Linked DNA regions of Homo sapiens: all the other regions are linked to region 1. A link means that fine-mapping ties the variant in region 1 to the expression of a gene that starts in the linked region. Tissue or cell type: adrenal gland. Region 1 holds a variant in brackets; each other region holds the start of a gene. All regions are shown on one strand. Distances are between the middles of the regions.

Evidence for each region. PIP is the estimated chance that this variant, and not a neighbour inherited with it, causes the effect.
Region 2: KCNMB4 starts here. The variant in region 1 is fine-mapped to the expression of KCNMB4 in adrenal gland (GTEx, PIP above 0.99).
Region 3: CNOT2 starts here. The variant in region 1 is fine-mapped to the expression of CNOT2 in adrenal gland (GTEx, PIP above 0.99).

The regions. Positions count from the first base shown.
Region 1 is chr12:70,567,833-70,575,941 of GRCh38, forward strand. PTPRB (protein tyrosine phosphatase receptor type B) reads right to left here. Exons shown (of 34, transcript NM_001109754.4): 12 at 3,992-4,255; 13 at 3,194-3,457; 14 at 1,843-2,106. PTPRB-AS1 (PTPRB antisense RNA 1) reads left to right here. Exons shown (of 9, transcript XR_001749196.2): 9 at 1,666-3,618. Among named protein-coding and RNA genes, the nearest start is that of PTPRB, 66 kb to the right of the region's middle. The variant A/G (reference allele first, on the strand shown) is at 3,867.
Region 2 is chr12:70,361,346-70,369,454 of GRCh38, forward strand. It overlaps KCNMB4 (potassium calcium-activated channel subfamily M regulatory beta subunit 4), which reads left to right and starts at 4,945. Exons shown (of 3, transcript NM_014505.6): 1 at 4,945-5,725. The coding sequence starts at 5,390. RefSeq lists a silencer at 4,761-5,000.
Region 3 is chr12:70,239,556-70,247,664 of GRCh38, forward strand. CNOT2 (CCR4-NOT transcription complex subunit 2) reads left to right here and starts at 3,878. Exons shown (of 16, transcript NM_014515.7): 1 at 3,878-3,925. It overlaps PRANCR (progenitor renewal associated non-coding RNA), which reads right to left and starts at 3,805. Exons shown (of 5, transcript NR_120460.1): 1 at 3,757-3,805; 2 at 3,269-3,338; 3 at 2,626-2,674. RefSeq lists enhancers at 3,164-4,363, 3,538-3,737, 4,468-4,607 and silencers at 3,297-3,836, 3,908-4,167.

The sequences.
Region 1 (8,109 bases):
ATTTTTTATTCTAGTATACTTTTGCTTTTTATACTTTTAGTAGAGATGGGGTTTTGCCACGTTGCCCAGGCTGGTCTCGAACTCCTGGACTTAGGCTATCCACTCACCTCAGCTTCCCAAAATGTGGGATTACAGGCATGAGCCACCGTGCCCGGCCTTTATTCTAGTATACTAAAAAAGGTGTAGGTTCCCAAATGTGCCATCCTTTCTCTCACCTCCAGGGCTTTGTTTTCTCTGTTGGAACGAAGACAACTTACACTTCACCTGGATGACTTCTTAGTCTTTCTTTAAATATTACTTCCTCCTGAAAGCCTTCCCTGACTCTTCTTGTTTGCTCCTCTAACATCTCATAACCACTTTTTTCTTAGCACGTACCATGTTTTACTGTAATTGCCTTTTTACTTTTCTATCTCCTTCACTAGATTATAAGGTTCTTGAGGTCAGGGGCTTTGCCTTGCTACTGAATGCCCACTTTCTTTTTTTGGAGACAGAGTCTCACTCTGTCACCAAGCTGGAGTGCAGTGGCATGATCTCAGCTCACTGCAAGCTCCGCCTCCTGGGTTCATGCCATTCTCCTGCCTCAGCCTCCCGAGTAGCTGGGACTACAGGCGTCTGCCATCACACCCAGCTAATTTTTTGTATTTTTAGTAGAGACGGGGTTTCACCATGTTAGCCAGGATGGTCTCAATCTCCTGACCTTGTGATCCACCCACCTTGGCCTCCCAAAGTGCTGGGATTACAGGCGTGAGCTACCGCGCCTGGCCCGAATGCCCACTTCTAACACAGGATTTGTCATAGGGTTAAAGATATGCAGATATAGATATAAATATAGATATGAAATAGAGGCATAGTAGGGCATGGTATAGAAGCCCCAGACCCCACAACTAAATAAGTGGTCATGAGAATGGGAGACATCTAAGAAGTATTGTGTCACAGTGGAGAGGGCACGAGGTTTGGGGCCAGACAGACCTAGACTTGAATTATAGCTTTAGGTCTTGTTATATACGTATCCTTGATACTGTTTTACAAGCTTTCTGAACTGTTCTTTCCTCATCTGTAAGAGAACTATAGTATGGCTAGAGATCTTTCAAAAATAATACATGAATAGTGATATTGATATAAACAGATATATTATTCATACATTTGATACTTGTTTTTTTAGCTCTACCAGGTAAAGTAGATGGCACAGATGTGTACTCTTTCTTAAAAGGTAGAACTTTTGAAAAATGCATAATTATGGAAGTCTCCTTATTAAAATTTATTTATTTATTTATTTACTTATTTATTGGGACAGGGTCTCACTCCGGTTGCCCAGGCTGGAGTGCAGTGGCACGATCACGACTCACTGCAGCCTTGACCTCCCGGGCTCAGGTGATTCTTCCACCTCAGCCTTCCAAGCAGCTGGGACTACAGGTGTGCACCACCACGCCTGGCTAATTTTTTGTATTTTTAGTAGAAATGGGGTTTAGCTATGTTGCCCAGGCTAGTCTCGAACTCCTGAACTCAAGCAATCTACCTGCCTTGGCCTTCCAGGGTGCTGGGATTACAGGCGTGAGCTACTGTGCCCAGCCTGCTTGTTAAAATTTAAAATTTTATTATCCTTTAGCAAGTATAAAAATGTGTTCAAATGATTTGGTTTCTGATTCCCTTTCATTTGTTTTGCAGATCTCTATTAAGAGAAAAATACAAAGAATAAATGAGTAAGGCTCTTGAAACCATTGAATTGTACAAACTTTGGTGGTTTTAAATCTGGATTTGTGAATAGCTGAGCCCGTTCACTGTCCCATTTTGGAGAACCATGAGGCATTCTACAATCTAGCCCTTCTCCAGGTGGATGCTTACCTGTCCGCCCAACCACATTTATCTGATTCTTCAGGGACCCGCTGACTGAGGCAATCATGATCTGGTACTGCTCCCCGGCCTCCAGTCTGTGGAACGTGTGCTCAAAGACGTGCTTGGGAATAGTCTGAGAGTCAACCTTTTGACTGTGCCTGAATGCCGACACCGTGTAGGAATCAACGTCTCCCCCACCAGGAGTCCAGTTCACCGTCAGGCTATCTGTTGCTCCATTGGGAGAAATGTGAATATTTTTGACAGCACTAGGAACTAAAACAGAAAATAAATTTAAAAGTCATCACTTAGAGAATGAACTGTTGAAATTTTCAAACAAAGTTTTGAATGCTTCTGATGTTTTGGCACCCACTGAGAGAACTCACATGAAAAAGAAAGTAACAATTTGCCACTTTTCTCTGATTTTTCTGTGTGAACTAAAGTTGATGGGGGAAAGCTTAGGGGGAAGTCAAAGCCGGTGAGTGGAAATGAGGAATGCTAATTATATAGCGAGGGGCTAGTTAGGGTGTCTTGGTCCAAGTTTTGGTTTTCTCACTCACTAGCTGTGGGACTACAGGCAAATTACTTGACCTCTGTAAGTTTTAGTTTCTTCATTAGGAAAAATGGCAGTGATGATAATACTAACCAGCCCATAGAGTTGTGAAGATTGATTCTTTTTTAATTTAATTTTATTTTATTTTTGAGGTAGGGTCTCTGTCTGTTGTCCAGGCTGGAGTGCAATGGCATGATTATGGCTCACTGCATCCTATACCTCCTGGGCTCAAGTGATTCTCCCACCTCAGCCTCCCCAGTAGCTGGGACTACAGGCACGTAACACCGTGCCCGGCTAATTTTTTTGTATTTTTTGTAGAGACAGGGTTTTGTCATGTTGCCCAGGCTGTGCTTGAACTCCTGGGCTCAAGCTATCCTCCTGCCTTGGCTTCCAAAGCATTGTGAAGACTGAACAAGATGTAGACATAAAATGCTTTGCTGTGGGTCTGGTTCATGGTGAACTGTCAGTACATGTTAACTACTATGGCAACACTCCTAAAAGAGTTCTAAAGAAGTGATACCCAAGTAACACTTAATTCTTAATCTGTGTGCCTCAGAAGCACCAGCTGATCACATCAGTTCATTGCTATTTCTCTGAAAGCACCCTCCAACCCCGCCACTCTCTGCTGACATCATACTTTATTTTCATTCATCCAGGTTGGACAACATCATTGTCACTATCAACATGACTTTGTCCCTTCTTGCTGTCTCCCTTTTATCCCTCCAAATGCTCAATCGAAATACCTGAACTACCCGAAAGTTAAATGCACCACTGCATCTATTCAGGTTCAAGAACAGTATTTCACATTACCTGTGAAGCCCTCAATGAAGGCTGACTGCTGTACATCCCCGCTAATCGTCAAGACAAGAATTTTGTATTGGCGGCCTGGTGTTAGGGAAGTAAATCGATACTCGGTTGCGGTATTTACAAGGTGAAAAGGAGGAAATACTTTCATGTCATTGAAGAGCAGCTGGATCTCATATTGGTCGACATCCCCATTAGCTCCTGACCAAGTCACATGCAAGTCCTCAGTGCTCCTGTTGCGCAATGTTAGATCCTTAACAGGCTCTGGAACTAGGGAGAAAAATGAGAAGACATTTCAGGAAAGGAACTGATCAGAGTTTACCTACATAATAATTTATGAATCACATTCAAGGAACTGGCAACATCTCCCTTCCCCAAATAAACCACTAGCACTACTTCATGCATAATTAAACAAGAAAAATTGGAAGCAACTATTAACATTGTGGTTTTTTCCTGACATAAATGTTACATGATCAGCATTGGTAGAACATAATTATAAAATGAGTTATGATCTCAATCATAAGATAAAACAAGAAGTCTAGAATCTAAATGCCATGATGCAGGAAGATAGGGAAGAAAAATGGGACATTTAGCCTTCTTGCTCCCTCACTATGTTTGCTTTTATCTACCAATAAATATTCTGTAATTATAGGCCATGGCTTGGCTGAATGATGTTAGC[A/G]CCAAGTGAGACTTACTGGGAATGTAATGTACTAATGAATAAGCAGAAAAAATTCAAGGTTCAGATAAATTACTAGAGACTTTCAAGTCCAACCAACTGTCAGATTTTGCAATCGTTCCACTTACTTGTTCTCCCATTCCCTTGTTCATTGGCTTCATATTGTCCACTTTTTGTAGTAACAGTGACACTGTACAACCGTCCAGGGACTAGCTGAACAAATACACATTCGTTTTCTGACTTGGGAATGCTTTTAGTTTGAATGAAGTTGTTTTTGTTTTTAATGGTGACTTCATAGTGATCAAAGTCTCCAGTGGCATGCACCCAGGATACCCTTAAATAGTCACTCCTGGCTGAGTTGCTAACACTGACTCCCTGGACTTTGTCAGGCACTGAAAAGGAAACAGAGAGTAACTAAATATTTATGAATTCTGAGTGAGTAATTGATCACAGATGACAAGCTGGGACAATAAAAAGAGAGAGTAGATTATTATTGTGTGCATTTAAAAGAAAAATCTTAGACCTTAGGTTACAAATTTCTGGAGGGGAAAGATTGTTACACTATGTGGAGTGATTAAACGGATCTTTTAACAGAAGCTGATGAACTCATTCTAAGCCTGCTGTTTGCCTGCACAAAGTGTCATGTATAAGATGGAACATTAAACATGATGGCTGATGATTAATATGAGTGATGGTAAACGATATAGATAATTCCAACATACCTTGCTGACTCAAAAGTTACTAAGAAGAATATAAGCAATCCCCCAACCCGCCCCCCTCAAAAAAATGAGGCTATGCATGGTGGCTCACACCTGTAATCCTAACACTTTGGGAGGCTGAGGAGGGCAGATCACTTGAGGTCAGAAGTTTGAGAACAGCCTGGCCAACATGGTGAAACCCCGTCTCTACTAAAAAATACAAAAATTAGCTGGGCATGGTGGTGCACACCTGTAGTTCCAGCTACTCGGGAGGCTGAGATGGAAGAATCACTTGAACCCAGGAGGCACAGGTTGCAGTGAACCAAGATCACATCATGCCCCTGCACTCCAGCCTGGGTGATGGAGCAAGACTCCATCTCATAAAAAAAAAAAAAAAAAGAAAAGAAAAGGAAAAAGAAAAATGGAAGAAGAAACACATATGGTTATTTGCATAATAAATGAAGAGATTTTCCACATCACTGGTGATCAAGGAAATGCAAGTCAAAACCACAGTGAAATACTGTTTTACATCCATTTGACTGGCAAAATTAAAAAACTATATAAAAACCACGTGTAGAAGAATATATACAGGAGACTGGATAATGAATACATACATATACACACATACACACACACAGTGAAATATTATATAATAGTTATAATTAATTCCTTAACTCAAAACACAAAAATATGGATTTCTTGTCCTTAACATCAAAATACAAAATATGGATGAATCTTACCTGTATAATAAGTAAAACATCTAAGTCCCTAAGATATTAAATACTACATTAAAAATACCTTTTTAAATAATGTTAAAAACAACAAAAAATTTTGAAACCCATAATTTTAGGCCTGTATATAAATGCAATAAAACTATGCAAGATGGAAAGCAAGGGAGAGGTGAACATAGGAGTCAAGATGTTGGCTACCTTTGAGTGAATTCACGAGGTGGGGACCACATACTTTGATGTAGGTTATTGTCAAGGTCCTAGCTTTTATTTTAGGTACTGGTTGGTTTCTTGTGTACATGTTAAATTATCAAAAATTACTAACTAGATGCCTAAAAAGTAAAGGTGGCAGTTGATGCATGGTTTCTTTTTTCTTTTCTTTTCTTTTTTTTTTTTTTTTTTTGAGACAGAATCTCACTCTCTTGCCCGGGCTGGAGTGCAGTGGTGCGATCTTGGCTCACTGGAACCTCTGCCTTCTGGTTCAAGCGATTCTCCTGCCTCAGCCTCCCAAGTAGCTGGGATTACAGGTGCCTGCCACTACACCTAGCTAATTTTTTGTATTTTTAGTAGAGATGGGATTTCACCATGTTGGCCAGGCTGGTCTCAAACTCCTGACCTCATGATTCTCCCGCCTCGGCCTCCCAAAGTGCTGGGGATGCATGGTTTCTTGAACCAAGAATTATGATTAATACAATTTTGTGCATGTGAGGTTCTTTCTAATATATGAACGAAACCATTCTGTATATCTGTGGTCCCCTCCCCAACCAGTAAATAAATATATGCATGTTACTTAGGAACACTGTGGAATAAGGCAATTCTGTATTTAGAGCATGATATTAAGGAGATTTCATTTTTCCATTTGGGGCTGAATTTTAATTCAACAGTAGGCCACAGATTCATTACTATTTCACGGTAACTGGACATTATACATATTAATGAGGAGGAGCATTGAAAAGAGGCATGAACTCGGATCCAGGGTACTAAACTCTTGTCCTAATACTAGCATGTCCTCTGTATTTGGTATATATTAGGGGTTTCTGATCTGACCACATGCCAAGGCTGTGTCCAATTTTTCACCTCTACTTTTTCTCAAATCATGAAATGATCCAGAAATTTCAGTATTTTGGCATGGAAGCTCCATTTTCTCACACCTGCAAGTTGCATTAGCATCCTTTGTTGCCTTGTGTTTACTGATTAGTGTTTGGAATATAGCTCACCACAGATATGGAGCAAGGACAGATATGCTTTCTCCAAGATATTTACCTAAAACCAATTACAGTGTTGTTAGAATACAGTCATCACAGAGTTAAGGAGAGGAAATTATGAAGTGGCATTTTATGCATGGGCTAAGAAAGGTCAATGATCCAGGCAATTTGCTAAAGGCAAAGCAACTATTACAGGAAGAAAAACCTGGCTGAATATCACGTTAAGTCAATAAGGAGCTCTCCAGGTGGAACGGGGTAATTTGTGGAGACCTGCCTTGCTACACAGTGAGATGATGTGATACAGAATTAGAAATATTGGTATTTTCACCCAAAATGTAGAACAAGAGCATCAGAAATGGAAAAGGGCATTAAGATAATCAGCCAAAATCATCAAGAGAACAACTCAGACATGACCCTCCAGTTAAACTGATTTGTCAGGGGCAATGATTTGCCTCCATTAGTCGTGTACCAAGTCCAAGTTCATGCCGGTCAAGGAGTCAAGAGGATGCACTGAATAAAGAATCACTTTCTTGCATTTTAAAACAATCTCAGCAAAAGACTTGGCAATATTAAAGTCATACGGATAGGAAATCATCATGAATTGACATTGGTAGGAAGCAAGGGGTTGGTAGTTAGGTAACACATCCTTTAATTTCTGGTGATTTTTAGGCTCCAAGTTGATCAATATGAGACCCTGACATAAGACTGCTTTGTAAATAGAAATCTGCTTTTCAGATCTAAGTCATTATTGTGATTGTCAGTGTAATTGGGCTTCAAATTATTCAAGGGTAGGGATAATCTCTTTATATCCCTGACTAGTGCTCTCGGATACAGCATGATGGAATGGACAGCACTGGAGCTAGACTGAACTCCACTACCAGTCAGCCCTGCAACCCTGGAGAAGCCACACTCCTTCTCTGGGACTTCCTTTATATCCAAATGAGGAAACAGGATTAGATCATTCTAAGGACCCCTTCAATGTCAGCATCCTGTAACAATATAAATCAGAGGTTCTTAGCTTTTTGGAGGTCACAGAAACCATAAGAATCTGATAAAAGCCATGGACTGTTTCTTCTCAAAGAAATGCATATACCTTTCCTATCCCCAGCAACCTCATAAACAATTTCAGGGGTTACTACATTCCTAAAGTCTCCCATGAACCATGGACTCCCAGGTGGGACCCCTGATCTAAGTGATTTCTGATTATTCCTTTGCCAAGTATTTACTGAGTGCCTACTAAGCCCCAGGTCCTGCGCTAGGTAACAGGATAAGGACAATTGTCTCAGAACCTCATGGAAAAACTGACATTTTAAAATACAGAAATCAACCCATAGCTTAGTAGGAAACATTTGACAATGTATTGATGCCAACCTTAAGCAGAAATCTCAGGTATAAACCCCAGAAAGCATAAATATATTGGGAAAATGGTAGCTATTTAAATTTAATTCTTTCCAGCACATTGGACTGAACATTCATTTCCTTTGCTAAGATTTTTGCTCCCTAGTCCCAGAACCATAAAGGTTCACATTTTCACCTTGTGTGAAAAAGGATGAATAGTGGTTTTGACCAACAGACATTTCAGGATGGATTTTAGGATGGAGAGCTTTGTAGGCAC
Region 2 (8,109 bases), 210 kb before region 1:
CCTAACTTAATCTCTCTGTTCCACATAAAACAGTACTACTACTATTTGCTAAGCATCTGAAGAGGCTATTTTCAACACAAATGTGATTCAGAGTAAAATTAAGCAGGGGGACCAGATTAAATTATTAGTTCCTTCAGCCTCTACTCACCGTCCCCTTCATAATCGTTTCACAGTAGAGATTTTGATTAAGCCTAACTGTACTTAAATATAAGTATAGAAACACATTTTAAATCCATTCATAAATGCTTTTTGTATTATCTACACTTCATTTTTGTTAACAAATTTCTTAGAAGTGGCATAGTATAGTAGAAAAATTGTTTTAGGTAATTTATTATCTTCGAGTAGTTAGTATTTCTTAAATATAAGATACTATGTAAAATGCAAATATAAAATCCCCTGGCCCTGTCACAATATGTGTGCAGTCTTGCAAAAATTACCTAATCTCTGAATGTTTTTCCCTCTTCTTCTCATGGGAAGGTTAAATTAAGGCATTTGTAAATAACCTAGCTTATATTAGGTGTTGCATCGACGTAGGTCCATTTCTCTAAAGACAAACACTCTTCCTGTTAGCCATCATGCTAGGACAGGCTCTCCATGTTTTTGGATTCTGTTCAAGACCTTTTAACTTCACTAGATACTGTTATATAGCAATACCCAATTTTCTAAAGTGCATGGCAAAACAAAAATGGGAATTAGATACTAGAATACTAAAACTCTTCTAGACCAACCCTTTTGTACGACAAGGAGGAAACTAATATTGCTATGGTTTAAAAGTGTCCCCCAAATTTAATGTGTTAGAACATATTCCCCAAATTCATATTTTTGATGGCATTTCGAGATGGGGCCTTTGGGAGATAATTAGGATTAAATAAGGTCATCAGGGTGTGGGGCCTGATGGGACTGGTGGCTTTATATGTACAGTGGCCTGAGTTAATAGGCATTCTTGCTTTCTTGCTATGGAACTGCCTTCTGCCATGTTAGGGTACACAAGGACCTGACCAGATACTACTGTCATGCTCTTGGACTTCCCAGCATCTAGAATTGTAAGAAATAAGTTTCTTTATAAATTACCCAGTCTCAGGTATTCAGTTATAGCAACAGAAAATAGACTAAGAGGATTATTTACCTTGTGTCAAATTATTTACTACTAAAGCTGGGACCAAAACCTCTTGGCCTCTATGTTTCAAGTTCCAAAGCTGATTTCCCTTTTACTACATACCTGTGTATATCTCTCCCATACAGATTCACTGCAGTTAACATGAAAGACTCAACAGTTGGTGAGATTTTAGGAACTCTAGAGCACTACCAGTATGGTATTAAAAATTTGCTAATCTATCCAGAATGTAAATTTTAATGGAAAAAATGTGAATTGATTGTCTGTGTTTTGCTTTCCTCAGTTGCAAACATAAAGGCTATACACAAACATAAATTTGAGCTTTTAAAAAATATTTTAAATAACTACAATTACAAGCAAAATGCAAAGTCTGGGAGCTTCTTGGTTAATGTTGAACTAGGCAATGGTTAAAATCCCTTCCTGTTCTAATTTACTGTAATTAGAGATAGTAAGTAGTGTTCTTAGTAATAATTATATGCTCATTTTAATAGGTGAAGTTTATGGCCAGGAAAAAACAATCAGAAAAAATAGTGACCACATAGGAAATGTATTTTGAATTTAAAATTCTGAGGCTAATAACAAATATTTAACACTCATAATGGAGCATGGCAAGGAAATTAATTTGGTATCAGCAAGCTGGAACTCAATTTCCTATGACATTAACAAAATCTATAATTATAGCTGCTGAATCAAGAAGAAAATATAAAATGGTTTTATATGGTTTTCTTTGTTGGATCACTCATACTTTCATCATGTGTAATATCTAGTAAAAAAGGTCTAAACTCTAGAACGTAAATTTTAATAGAAAAAGTGATTATACATTATTTTCCTATGTATTTTCGCTTTTCAAGTGTTTAGTGGCAGTTATCAAAAAACTTCATAATGTGCCAATTTTTGAAAAAATTTTCCCACCTGCTGTAAATTCCCTTCTATTCCTAGGATACAAAAGCCTGCCTTAAAATTATTTTTAGAATCTTTTATTAAAAAGTATATATACATATGATATTGTATACTGCAACTTTAGCATCAGCCACAGGACTTTTTGAATATTGATCATGAGAACAAATTATAAGTAACATGGCTTTGATGCCCTTGTTTAGACAGGCTTTATTTTTCTTTTAAATTGAACTTTATCAAGACCTGGCCATGATCCTACTGGAAAAACTACTGCAGACGATGTACATCAAATAAGTCAGTCTGGTTCTTAATATTACATTTTTAATCTTAATTGGTGGAACACTATTCAAAGAAAGGACTAGCTGCTTTTTCTGTGCTACTTCCACCTTTCACAGGGAACAGAGATTTTAAGTGACCTCAGATCTTAGCATTTCTGAGCTTTCCTGGAGTTCTTACTACCATTCTGACTTAGTAAGTGGTGACCTGTATTCTGAAACTGAGGGGCTGACATATCCAATCTTCCTTGGGAATGTGATAAAGCAGCTCCGCTTCAAGTAAGTAAAACTAATAAACACTTCCAGTGTTTCATTAAGAATAAAATAGAAATTGATTTAATTTGTGAAGTCTTAATACGTTTGACTTTCAATAAAGATGTGAAGATAAAAGTGTTCAGAGAAAAGCTAAATTAAAAACAGGAAACAGGAGAAAAAAATGTCTAGAGAACAGAAGACACAAGTTTCTTTAAATACTTTAAGAATAATTGCCAAGAAAGAAATTGACTAAATGCAGAACTGAAAGAAAATGAATTTTAAAACTTCAAGAATTTCAGTTAAAATAAGATAGAATTTTCTGATTTTGTTCCCTAGACTTAGACCACCGTACTTCAGTTTTGAGGCAGAGGTTTCATTCACAGAAGACTTTGAGCTCTGGAATCATTGAAAAACGAACCATATTCATTAAATTATTGGTAGTCCCCCAACTGCTGTGCATTAATAGGAATTAATTCTGCCTCATTTCAGTTCCTCAACATACTGAGCTAGAATAATTGTATCTTGTTATTTGTTCATCATTGCTTCAGATCTTAGACATAGCTTTTCCTTTCTTGGAAAAGAAGATTATAACAATAGAAAAAAAAGATTATTTCCTATGTTTTTTATTTTTCCTGCAATAGGAAAAAGATTCAGATTGAAGATTTGTGATTTTCGGTTATGCTATTTCAATTATTAAACTCACTTTTAAGCAATGTAATCACAATTGTCTTTATGCTAACAGGAAAAGAATACAATTCTTACATTTAAATTAAAAAAAGAAAATCTCAAAACCTGAAAGGTATTAGAGAACAAAGCATCTTCCTAATTTGGACGTTTTTCAAACTCTACATCTTCTTAATTTATTGAGAAAAAGACACTTAGGATCTTCCTGTAATTAATTTGCCCATTGCTGGGAAATACTTGTTACCTGTCATAATGTAGTGCTTCAAAATAACGTTATCAGAACTGCAGTCGAAAGGTACTCAATACCAGTTAAGTAACATTTGAAGTCCAGGAAAGAGAAGTCAAGAATTCCATGATTCCATGTTTCCGTATTCATCAGGAACATAATTAAGAGTTTATTCATTTGAGACTTACAAGCAAACAAAAAAAGTTTATGTAGTTTGCAAGGAAGTTAATATTCTGATTTTATTCTTCGAAATGTACATATAAATAGTTCTCAAGTTTGATTTTATGATAAAAGTGTAGTTTGGGAAAAGGTCATTCTAACTTTAAAAAGGTCGCGAAAACAATAGAGGCTGAAGCATTGTTAGCGTAATTGGGGGAGGAGGGAGCAACGGCAAGAATTAAGAGCAGAACACAGGTCTAGAAACAGTACCTGTCCCAAAGTGGGTCTGCCCGGCGCTGTCGCTTTAAGCAGCGCTCCTGGAAACCTCATCTACAAATCCTGGGGCGGGTCAGGGGTGGCAAGACTCCTAAGGAGGGAAACGACAGAAATGATTCTGTTCTTGCGAGCCCCAAAGCAAGAGTACTTTTCTGATGGGTAAAGTGGTATTTCTTTCCAGGCTGCAAAGCTCTCCACCTTTTTCCTTTGGTCTCAGTCAGCCCCAGCCATGGGGGCAAATCAAGTTGGGGTCAACTCGGCTGCCAGAGACCTAAGTTGCCACAAGGGTCACCGACGACCTAAGCAGCAAGTTTCCTTCGTCCAGCCTCCTGCCCCCACGCACATTGCCTCCACAGCAAACTCCACCTGACTCAGCTTGTTTAACTCCAATCCTGCAGCCCTCCCGGCCTCAGCAGGGTCAGGGGGCGCGGGTCTGCGCCAAGACGGTTAGGAGGCCCAAGTCCTGGGACTGGACGGTTACTGCGCTCCCTTGGGCGCAGCCGCTGGCGGCGTGGGCGCGGCTGGGTCACGCCTCCGGCACCACCGCGCGCCAGCCCGCCCGTGGCATGGGAACCTGCGATTCAGTCGTCCCCGGGGACCTCCCAGCGCACACCGCTAGCCTGGGGCTTTCACCTCGATCCGCCCGGCCTGGGCGGCTCGTGTCCTCCCACACCGCCACCCGTGCCCGCTTCCCGGGGTGCGCCCGGAGCCTGGCCGCTCTCCCTGCAGGTGACCAGTACTCGTTTGGAGTTCAAGATTCCCGCCGCTCCACTTGAACTCCACCCTCCCCTCTTATTATTATTATTATTTTAACTTCCCTCCGGTTAAGCTAAATTGATCTTAATCTTTCATCTCGGACGTCCCTCTAAGGGGAGTGAGCGAAGATTCCGATTGCAAGTCGCCGCTGTCGCTTGTGCCCGTCAGCCCCTCGCCCAAAGGAGACGCCCCCGGGCGGGGCGGGGCGGAGCGGGGCGGGGCGGAAGGGCCCGGGTCTGCTGCGGACGGGGCGGGGCGGAGCCTCCTCCTGCACGGGGGAGCCCCCGGGCTCGCCCCAGCTCAGACACTCCTAGCCTTGGGGCAGCTGCCGGGCGAGTCAGCGGAGTAGCGGCCAGCGGGCGATGGAGACAGAGAGACACCCGACGAGAGGAGGCGGGGTGGGGGAGGCGGGGAGAGTGCGGGGGCGGAGGCTGGCAGGGGGCGCTGGAAGCTGGAGCGGTCCGTGCGCTCCCCGCGCCCGAGGGTGCAGGAGGCTCTGAAGCGGCTGCTGCACCGCGGGGCCCAGGCGGCGGCTGGGGGGCTGGGGGGCGCTGCCGCCGCCGCCGCCGGGGGCGTCGCTGGCCTCGGCCCCTTTGTTCTCGCGCGCTCCCCCTCGCCGCCCACTCCCCTGCTGTCGCGCGGCGGCGGCGGTGGCGGCGGCGGCTCCTCCCGCCCGAGGCAGTCGGGCTCGGCGCCGGGGGCGGGAGGGGGCGGGGGGAGCACGCCAGCCGCCGAGAGTGGGGGGCGATGGCGAAGCTCCGGGTGGCTTACGAGTACACGGAAGCCGAGGACAAGAGCATCCGGCTCGGCTTGTTTCTCATCATCTCCGGCGTCGTGTCGCTCTTCATCTTCGGCTTCTGCTGGCTGAGTCCCGCGCTGCAGGATCTGCAAGCCACGGAGGCCAATTGCACGGTGCTGTCGGTGCAGCAGATCGGCGAGGTGTTCGAGTGCACCTTCACCTGTGGCGCCGACTGCAGGGGCACCTCGCAGTACCCCTGCGTCCAGGTCTACGTGAACAACTCTGAGTCCAACTCTAGGGCGCTGCTGCACAGCGACGAGCACCAGCTCCTGACCAACCCCAAGGTAAGAACGCCCCGCGCACCCAGGGGCTCCCCGCGAGGGAGGTTTGGAGGCAGCGTCGGTGTTAGACTCCGCGCGGGGAGGGTTCGGCGTGTGCTCGCATTGCTAGGAGGAGACCAGGTGGCGCAGGCTGTGCTCAAACCAGGAATGACTACATCAGGGAGCCCCAGGGCTCCGGTCTTTTCAGGTGGGTTTACGCGCGGCGACCAGTGGTGCCCAGAGGCTTACTTTAAAACCTGTCTTGCCTGGTCTCAGATTTTGAGGCCTCGACCCAGTCCGGGTCCTGCGCCTACCGGACTGGGTTTGGAGAAGTGCAAGGAGCCAAGAAAGTTAACTTTTCCTCCATTTAAAGCCAGTGGTTAGCGGGGATCCACCTACTCCAGCTCACGGTCAAGGTCCGAGCTTCAGCTGGTCTCATCTAGAACTCAGATGGAATGACCTTCCTTGAAAGGTCGAGGGGACTCTCGAAAGTTGTGAGAGAGTTCCTCACCTTTTCGCTCTACATAGGCATTTTCAACTTGGGGTTCAAAGATAAGCTTTTGTGGCTTGACAAACGACCCGGAATCAAATGTGGAATATTGCGGGTCCATTTTGGGAAGTACAGAGGGCTCCTAGTTTTCATGAAATAGATTCTCAAAAGAGTCTACAGGGAGCCTAGTTACCCTTTGTGTTTAGGGACAGTCAGGAGTCGTCTGGAGAACAGTAAAACTTGCTGAAAATAGAAAACCTTCAGTGAAATGTACCTAATATGACTTCTCTGACAACTTCTATTGGTCTCGAAAGCAAGCAAGAAGAAAAAGAAAAAGAAAAAAAAAAAAGATAAAACCTGGTTAGGACTCCCGGGATGGAGAGCAGAGAGAGGAAGTCTCAGAAAACTGTTCCCAATGGAGAAAAATAACTTATAAAAAGCAGTGTCCTTAGCCTGTGAACTAATTGAGCTTTGTAGTGCACCTGGTTCTGGTTCCGTTTCTACTTCCCTTGATCTTTTCTGCTCTCCTTGTTGCTTAACTATCAAAGGTATGTATCTTTTTAAAAGTTACTGACATTTTTCCTTTTTTTGAGGGATCAAGCAGAAAAACAGTCCAAAAGGGAATGCATCTTGTGTTCACAGGAAAACTTTCTGTTAACTCTAACAAGATATATTTATATTAATCCAAAAGAAAAAAATTCTACATTAATATTATAATAGTATTTAAAACAGCTTACCGTCACTCTGCAATAAAACTTGTGGTCTTACCTCCTGAACAGTAAATTCTTGAATTTGAGACATTTAGAAAATATTTCTTTTTAAAAATATGAATGACTCCTCTCAAAAAAAAAATGCTCCTGTCGACAAATGAATATTGATTTACCTTAAAAAATATCAATAATACATAAGCAGTAAATATAGGACTAAGAATATAGAATTTGGAGTATAATGTTAAAGATCTTGAAGAGGTGATAACGTCTCAAAGACAAATGTTGTAACTTGATCCTCTTAATGCTCAGGAATTTAAAAAGAAATCTCAGGGTTTTAGAAACATTTTTTTTTTTAGAATTAAATCAATAATGTCAAAGATGAGTGCCAACCAGTAGTAATGATTTAGAAATTATATGGCAGTTCATCATTTAGAAGTTGTTATAGTTGGTGAAACGTTGCTAATTATTTTAAGATAGTGGTTCAAGCACTAATAAATTTCATATCTATATATACATATATATGCACACACACATTAATAAATGGCTAATATCTAATCAAGACAAGGACAAATTATAATTTATTACAAAAAGACTGCTTCACAATTTTCAGGCAGTTTGAAGTATCTGGCAGAAAAAGTAAATTGAAATCATTGGGACGTTGATTTTTAAATTACCTAGAAGCAATCCCAATGCTTTATGTAATACTAAAATTTCTCCTCTCTCTTTTCTTTATCTCTCTCTCCCCTGAAAATAATCATTTTTTTTCCAGTGCCAGTTCAGATCTTGGCAACAGTTGTTTTGAAAAAGTACCTGAACAAAATACATTTTATAAAGTAAAGTATTCAGGAACTGACAGAACTGGAGAAGAATATATTTATGTTACAGAAGTCATGGACAACATCCTATTCATTTTAGTCAAGGTTTTCTCAGCCAAACCAATTTATATCTCTTTATCCAGATTATAATTATGTTGTATCATTTATAGACTGTAAGTTTGTTCTTTAGCATCACCTTTCTATTTTTGACCAATAAATTCTCAATTTGGAAATTCTTATAGGCAGTGTGATGGAAAAATTCAATGTAATAAAAATATTATGCCAGAGTCATGTACATAAGCAGAGTGTTTCCACAGTGTCCCTGCAATTAGGCAATACCCATTGTCCATTCCTGTTGGCTCTTGGCTGCCTAGATCTTTTCTTTGCCTTACT
Region 3 (8,109 bases), 330 kb before region 1:
TAGACATCTTCTTTATTAAGTTGGAGGTCAGGAATATCCTATTAGTTTAGTACTGTTTTTCCTGTTTCCTAGATTGGATTTTACAAATTTTGTGTTAAGGATATCTGTTGACATTTACTCATTTATTATTTAAAAAGTCTAGCTAATCTTGGATAAGAATTTTGTTGATTCATTCACTCACTAATTTAACAGCATTTATCTAATGCCTACCATGTGTGAAGGATAAAGTAGTGGAAAAAAACAGGTGTAGTTTATATTTTTGTAGGGTGAAGGGAGGTAGAAAATAAACAGTGAATAAACAAGATAATGATAAATTATAAATGCTATTAAGAAAATAGAGGGGCACGTGATTGACAGAGAATAAATGGGAACGTGAGCTATTTTAGATACGGTGGCCAGGGAAGGCCTGTCAGAGATATTTGGGTTAACCTGAAGGAAGAGAATGAGTCAGCCATATCCAAGACAGAAGACCACATCCCAGGCAGAAAAAAAATAAATAAATAAAAAATAAAAAGCAAGTGCAAAGGCCCTGAGACAGAGTATCAGGTAAGATTAAATTCAGTTGAGAACAAGAGACTCCAAAATAGTGGCTTTAATAATATAGACATTTACGACTGCAGGGCTAGCATGGTGCTCTGATCCATAAAGTTCTCACAGACCCTGGTTTCCACCAGTTTAGTTTTGCCATCCCTAGAATGAGAGAACTTGCATGAGGCACAAATTGGCAGCTACAGTTCTAAGCCATCACATCTATATTCCACGGTACAGGATAAAGGAAAAGCCGCATTGAAGGTGTGCACCAACTATCTTTTAAGGATGGTTTTACAAGTGTGCCACATGATATACTGCTTACATCCCATCAGCCAGCACTATTACATGGCTACAAGGAAGGCTGCAAAATATAGTCTTTGTTCTGGGTAGCCATGTATCCATGTCTATTACTATGAAAAAAATGGAGGAATTTTTGGGGACAACTAACAGACTCTGCTACAGACTAGAAAAAGCACAGCCCACGACAGAAAGGAGGCAGTAAGAAGGGTGAGAACAACTTCCTGTGCTGCTTCCTGGGAAGATGGAGAAGTGGGCAGGAGCCAGATTATGCAGTCTTGAAGGCTATGGTAAGGAATTCCGATTTCATTCTGTGTGCATAAGGAAGCTATTGGAGGGTTTTAAACAAGGGAGTGACATAACCTAATAACATTTTTTAAGTGATTGCTTTGGTTGGTATATAGAGAATGGTTTAAATGGGAAAATATTCATGAGGGTACAGATAGAAAGTGATAGCAACTAGTGTGGTTATTGCTGTGGTCCAGCAACAGATGATGGTGGCTCCCAAGGGTTGTACCAGTGGAAGTGATAAGTAGCTAAATTCAGAATGTATTTGTCAGGAAGAACTGATGGTACTGTCTGATGAGTTGTATGAGTGTGAAGAATCAGAAAATTCCAAGTTTTATGCCTGAGCAAATAAGTGAATGGTGGTACTATTTATGAAAATCAGGAATTCTAAAGGAGCAGCAGATTTAGGGAATGAACAAAGGGGATTCAAATGTTGTTTCAGACACATTAGAGAAGCCTGTCCTTTTTATCCCTTGCCATGGCAAAATTTTCAATACCATCCATATTTTTCTAAAAATGGGTGGCCTCCTTCTTCTACAAGTTATACACAAACTCATTCTTCCCTTAATAGGGTATTTTTTTTCCCTCAACGTCTGTAATTTTTAAATAAAGTGTACAGAGAATTTAACATAATACATATTTTGGAAATATACAAAACATGTGCCTATTAGTAAGGACTACTTTTCAGGTAAAAGTAAGAAAATCTAGTAAGATAGTTAAAAGAAACCAAACTACCAAATGGGCAAACTTAATCAACATTACCAATAAAGATGAACTTTTTGATGCAACAGGACAATTTAAAAAATATACCATCTATTGGTAAGAACTCTTACTATAAGAATTCTTACTATACAAGCCTTTAACAAATGCTAGCTCATTAAATACCTAGAGTACCCTCTAAGGTAGGTATTAAAAATTTTTTAACAAATTTATAATAGATTTGGCACAAATAATAGGACAATTAAAGGCTTGTTCTTCAACCCGGCTTAAAGTGAATTCATCCTAAACAAATAGGTGTTCAGTGAGAGTCAAAGTAAGTAGTATCAAATATTGAAAGTAATAGTATCAGTGTATTTTCTCCTAACACTCCTAACCCACACATTTATTATGAAAATGTTTGTTGTTCTATCTCTTCCAGTAAAATACTCAAGGTAATAAAACTCTCATATCAGACTTACACCCTCTGGAAGTCATTCCATAGAGGTATATTCAATCTTTTAACACACCATCTTATGGTTGAAGATGTTAACATGAGAAGGAGGAGAAAGCAGGAAGAGGAAGGGACTATTTGCAGAAGACGGGGAGAAAGAAAGGAAAGACACTAGTATGTGTTGTTCCTCCTCGAATTTTCCTGAAGTGAAAAAAAAACAGTGAAGTAGAGTGTTTGATGAAATGAATAACCAAGCAAAACATTTTCTACCTACACCAGTACCACTAGGAGTTGAAATAAATTCACACAATGTCTGCTGATATGTCAAAACACCTTACCTTCAAAAACATGACAGTTACCTTTTATTTTATAGTATGCTTGTGTTTCTTCCTATTTCTTGCTTTTGACCTTCAATGATAAATGTAAACTGGATTACAGTGATTCTTTTGTAAGTAAAAGGTGACTTTTTAAAAGAAACAACCAATGGAAATAGAAATTTTATTTACTTCAAATTAACTGTACTTTACTCAAATAGAAAAGAATAATTTTCACATTATGAAGCTACACAATTCCAAAATACACATGCTGAGGCTCTTTTTAAGTCCGAATTGTCTAGTAATTACAAAAAAGTGAAGAGTTTACAGATATACAAGGAAATAAAGGCGAATTATTGCAAAGAAAACAAGTTTAATTTCACTTTGAATGACAACGATTTTTCTGGAAAGCAGATACTTCACTCCTTTAAGTTTCCACCCAAGCCACAATAATTTCAAACGGTCTTGCGGATGACCCAGCTGGTCACTCTTGTTTATGTGGGGACTGGAGGTAATGAGAGCCAAAAAAAGTGCTATAAACCTAATTTGGCTAGAGCAAGTTCACACGACACGACCGTGCTTTAAAAACTTGCTCTCCATTATGTACTTCCTTCCATCAGGTTGGGGAAAAAAAAATGGTGGGGATGGTGAGTAAACACACCAGTGGTTTCATCAGAGGGGAACTCACTACTCAGGAGGTGACGGTGACGTGGTGCCGGTCCCTGAAGTACGCGCACAAGCTCCGGAGGTTGCGGGAGCTGAGGGAGGAAACAGGGACACGATCAGATTCGCTCCAGGTGGCGGGAGTGAGGAGGGGAGGAGTGACGAGGCGGACGTGCGGGGGCGGGGGTGTCCAACACAAACACAAACACAAACACGAACACGAACACGCTCAGCGTCCCCGGGGAGGGCGGACTGAAGCCACCTCACCATTCATCGCCCCTGGACCCCGCAGTCCCCCTCGGACTCAGGGCCAGAGCCTTCTGCGAAGCAACCTAGCCCCAGGGAAACGGTAGCGGCCGCAGAAGCCCCGCTCTCTGTAACGGCCGCGGAGGAGCAGCAAGCCTCCCTGTGAGTCGGTGGGAGACAAGACGGAGCGGCGGTAAGGGCGGTAGGGAAGTGAAGCGCCTCTCTCCACCTTGTTAGAAGCGCGCTGAAAGCGGCCTGCCTACCCACCCCATCGCTGCCGTTTTGCAGTCGTCGCTCCCACCTTCCGCTGCCGCCTGGAGGGAAGCCGGAGCGACGGGGGTCACGGCGGCGGTCAGAGGGTAAAGGTCTTGCTCCCAGCAGCCTCCGCGGTGGATACGTCGCCATCTTGGATCCGCGGGACAAGAAAATTCATGCGGTGAGTTTTTGGTAAATTTTCGGAAGTCTGGCAGCGGGGCGCGCGGCGGGGGCGGCAGATTCGGGGCCCCCGCAAGGCGGGGGAATGCCCCGGGGCCGGTCCGGTCGCGCCCAGGGTCCGCCGGTAGCGTCCCGGCCCACCGCTTCCCGTTGCTTTTGTCTCGGCTCCAATCGAGAGACGGAGAGCGGAGCGGGCGGGGAGGGGGGTGGCGGCGGTGGAGGGAGGGAGGGGGTGTGTATGGGGGTGGTGGTGGACCGGACGTAAAGCGTCGCTGTACTCGGGCCGCTGCAGCAGCAGCAGCTCCAGATCCTAGGCCCGGTCCCATCCGCGAGTGGTGGGGCTTCCCCAGACTCCACTCCCCTAGGCTCCCGCCAGCGCGGAGGAGCCGCTGCCGCCGCGCTGCTTCCTGGGGGAGAAGAGAAGGCGGCAGCGGCCGTGGCCGTGGCCGACGAGCTCGAGCCCGCTTTAGACGGCTCTGCCGCCTTCCCGGCAGCTGGTGCTGTCTGTGGCTTCTTACCTTCTCTCAATACACGTATATCATCTGCCAGTTATGTGTATTTCTGTTAGTGTGTTTGCAAGTGTCAGATGGGAGACACTGGACTGGCTAACGGGTGTCAGGATCCTGCAGGCCCTGGGATACCGAAGGCTGTGCATGGTGGAGGGAGAAGGAATGCAACTGCGATGCCGCCTCTGCCACCGCACCAGGAAGGTGAAGCTTCCGTAGTGTCGTAGACTGAGTCCGGATGATCCTGGGGCGGCGGAGGAACCACAGACGCTTCTGTCTGTGAAGTTGCAAGTCCTGGGTTTCTACTTCCGCAGGGGCCTCTCCACCTTTTGCTGTCGTAGGTCTCGCTTAAAAGTTTAACAGAAGAAAAGAGTAGGGTTAAAAGAGGCCTTTGTAGTTCTTCATTGAAGCACTGTTGTCTGTCCGGGTGAAAGCTGATAACTCTTGGTAACTGTGGTCCTTAGCAAAAGAGAATTGGAGTTTTCTTTTATACAAAGTATTTCCAAGGTTTTAGACCTTATATTTATTCCAGGCCTGTAGGTACGGTATTACTACCACAAAAGTCTTACATTAAGGGTACCACCCTCTCAGAGGGAACCTAAACATCAACTTCCTTCGAATCCTTGGAGACATCTTCACTTTTCAACATCCGGAAGACTGAGTGCAACATATTTTGTTTCATTTTCATAAAAGTCTTGGTCAGAGAATCCCACTCCTTTTAAAATCGTTTGGGCAATTCCTCATAATTAAGTACACTGCTTTGAACCCTTAGTTCTTGGCGAAATGGTAAAAAGTACTCAGTTAAAATCAGTTCACGAGGGAGGCCAACTTGAATTTAAGGTTCAAAGTTGAACATATTTAGTGTCATGCTTAATATTAGGAATTTTTAGAGCTCGGAATCATAAGTGTGACTGTTGATTTCCCTTTTGAAGCAATATAAATGGAAAGAATAAAGTATGGGGTGAGGGATGAGATAGAAATTTTAAAGTATCCATTTACATGCAAGGTTGATGTTGAGTTTGGGAATGCTTGGCATAATTGACAACAGTTCTTTCCAAACGTCAATGAATAAATCTCACAATTTTGTAAGGTAACTATTGCAGATTGAAAGGGTTAAGAATCATAGTTGGCTGAAATGGTTAAGTGTCTATATTCACATCCCAGTTCATTGAAATGTTTTATAATGGACCAAGATAATTAGTAAGCTCTGTATGTTGAATTTGTTTAGTTTGTAGTTCTATTATAATGTTAAATCTAAAGAAAAAAATACAAAATACACTTAAAGACAAAACATGTTCCACTCTACTCACTTATTTCTTGACTTTGTAAGATCCTTACTGTAAAAAAGGTACTTTTCTCTCATATTTTCTGAGAGCTTGAATTGTAATAATTTTTGTGAATACTTTGTATTTTAGAGAGGAAGTGAGAAACTGCTGAAGTTTTTTTTGCATCTTGATTAGTGCTTTATCAATACAAATAAGTTAATGTAAACATTTGTTGGCAGGAATCTTTTTCTAAGTATACAATGTAGAGATATCTGTAACCTAATCTGATCTCAGGGAATGAGAATTGCCTGTTTAACCAAGCAACAAATACAGCCTATACAATTTTTCAATTTCTATAATACTTTAATTTACATGGTGGAAAAATGAGGGCAAAATGCTTGTGTATGAGTGATTTATATCCCCAAGTACCTGCTCTTGAAGATAAAACTCAGATTGTGGCTTATCTTCTGATGCTGGGCAAAAAACAAAAACAAAAAAATTCAGAATGATACAACTTCCCATATACCTCCCTACAAGAACTAATTACCTTTGTTTTTGCTTTATAACTTTGGATGTTGCACTTTTTGATTTTTCAGAGATGCTTTACAGTTATTGTAATCTGAAAATTATTTGTTCAAAAGTAAATAAAATTTTCAGGTGTATGAATAGATTTTATTAGAAGTGATTCTAACCCAGTTCTCATTTGTATTCCTTTAGTAGATACTGGTGTTAAAAGTACCTGTATTTTGAAAGACCATTACAGAATTTTTTACAACCTGTATAAGTTATAGTTTTATCTTTTCTAGTGACAGACTTACTTCATAAGATTTTCTGATAATATGAATAAAATGTATGCTTCACATGTATATATGAAATAATGAGTAAGCATTAATAGACCAATGAAAAGAACTTAGCTTACAATTTATTTTCTTGCTCTTTAAAAGCAGTGGTAAATAATAGCTTTTTTTTGTTGTTAAAATTTGTAACTGTAGAAAGTTCATTCTGTTGGGATCACATATTTGAAGGCAAACTAACAATGCCATGTGCTTGCTTGAATAGGCATTTGAGGACAGGTTATTTTCCTGAGATTTCAGGAAAATATACCACCAAACATTTATGATGTTATTTGTTACCTGGATCTGTAGTGGATTTTGTAACACAAAGAGGCAGAATATCCAGGGTACCAGGTAGGGCAGTTTAGGGGCAGAGTTAATATGAGGTGTACTGTAATGTTTGAGTGGAATTACATACAGTGTTAATCAAGAGATCTAGTGCTATGGTAGAACTTATTCTGCTTGATGATACAGGTGACTGTTCTTCCTTACTAAGAGCAGTTTCTACCTGTGATACTTAAAGGGATTGAATTTCACTGTGACTTATATCAGATATTTTGAAAAGAGCTGTGCTAAAGTTGATGTCATTGTAGAAAGTTTGCCTTGAAGTGGAATGAAAGTTAGGTTTTTATTTCTTTGGTTTTTCTGTTTGACATCCTTTGATTTCTATTTTAGAATTCAACTCTTATGACTAATCATGCTGATGTGGTTTGTTCATTTATTTTCTTTGTCTATACTATTAGGAATGTCCTGGAAATAGAATTTGTACTGTGTTTTCTGAGAGCTTGTTCTCTGAAATACAGATGCAAATCTGTTGGTATCTGTTGGTATATCCCTTGGGGGTGTGCTGCATTATAAAGTAATAAAACAGTTTACAATGTTTGCTTTTTGTCAAGAGCTTATGACATATAATATGGAAATACAAAAAAGTGAATTATTTAGGAAAAAATGGGAAATTTTTCCTTTTCTGGGCACTTCAGGGTTTTGTATATGCGTAGACTCAGGATCTAAGTCCACTTAGATATATAGTTAGATATTTTGGACTATTTGCCACTTAACCCTGCACATTTTCTTTTCCTTATTCTTTTTTTTTTTTCTTTGAGACGAAGTTTTGCTCGTCGCTGAGGCTGGAGTGCAATGGCGTGATCTTGGCTCGCTACCACCTCCGCCTCCCGGGTTCAAGCGGTTCTCCTGCCTCAGCCTCCTGAGTAGCTGGGATTACAGGCATGCACCCAGCTAATTTTGTATTTTCAGTAGAGACAGGGTTTCACCATGTTGGTCAGGCATGTCTCAAACTCCTGACCTCAGACGATCCGCCTGCCTCACCCTCCCAAAGTGCTGGGATTACAGGCATGAGCCACCACGCCCGTCCTATTCTTTTTATTCATGTGTATGTTATTGCATGTATGTGTGTGGGGGGCAGGTGGTAGTGCATATTTTATGTATCTTTCACTTCTCTGTTGTTTGATGAACTTCTTCCATACTCCTCTTTGGTATCACTTTCTTCATAAATCTTTCCTGACTCCCCAAATCCTTTGCTGTATTGCTTTTTACTCTTCAAACTTCTATTATAGAATGTCA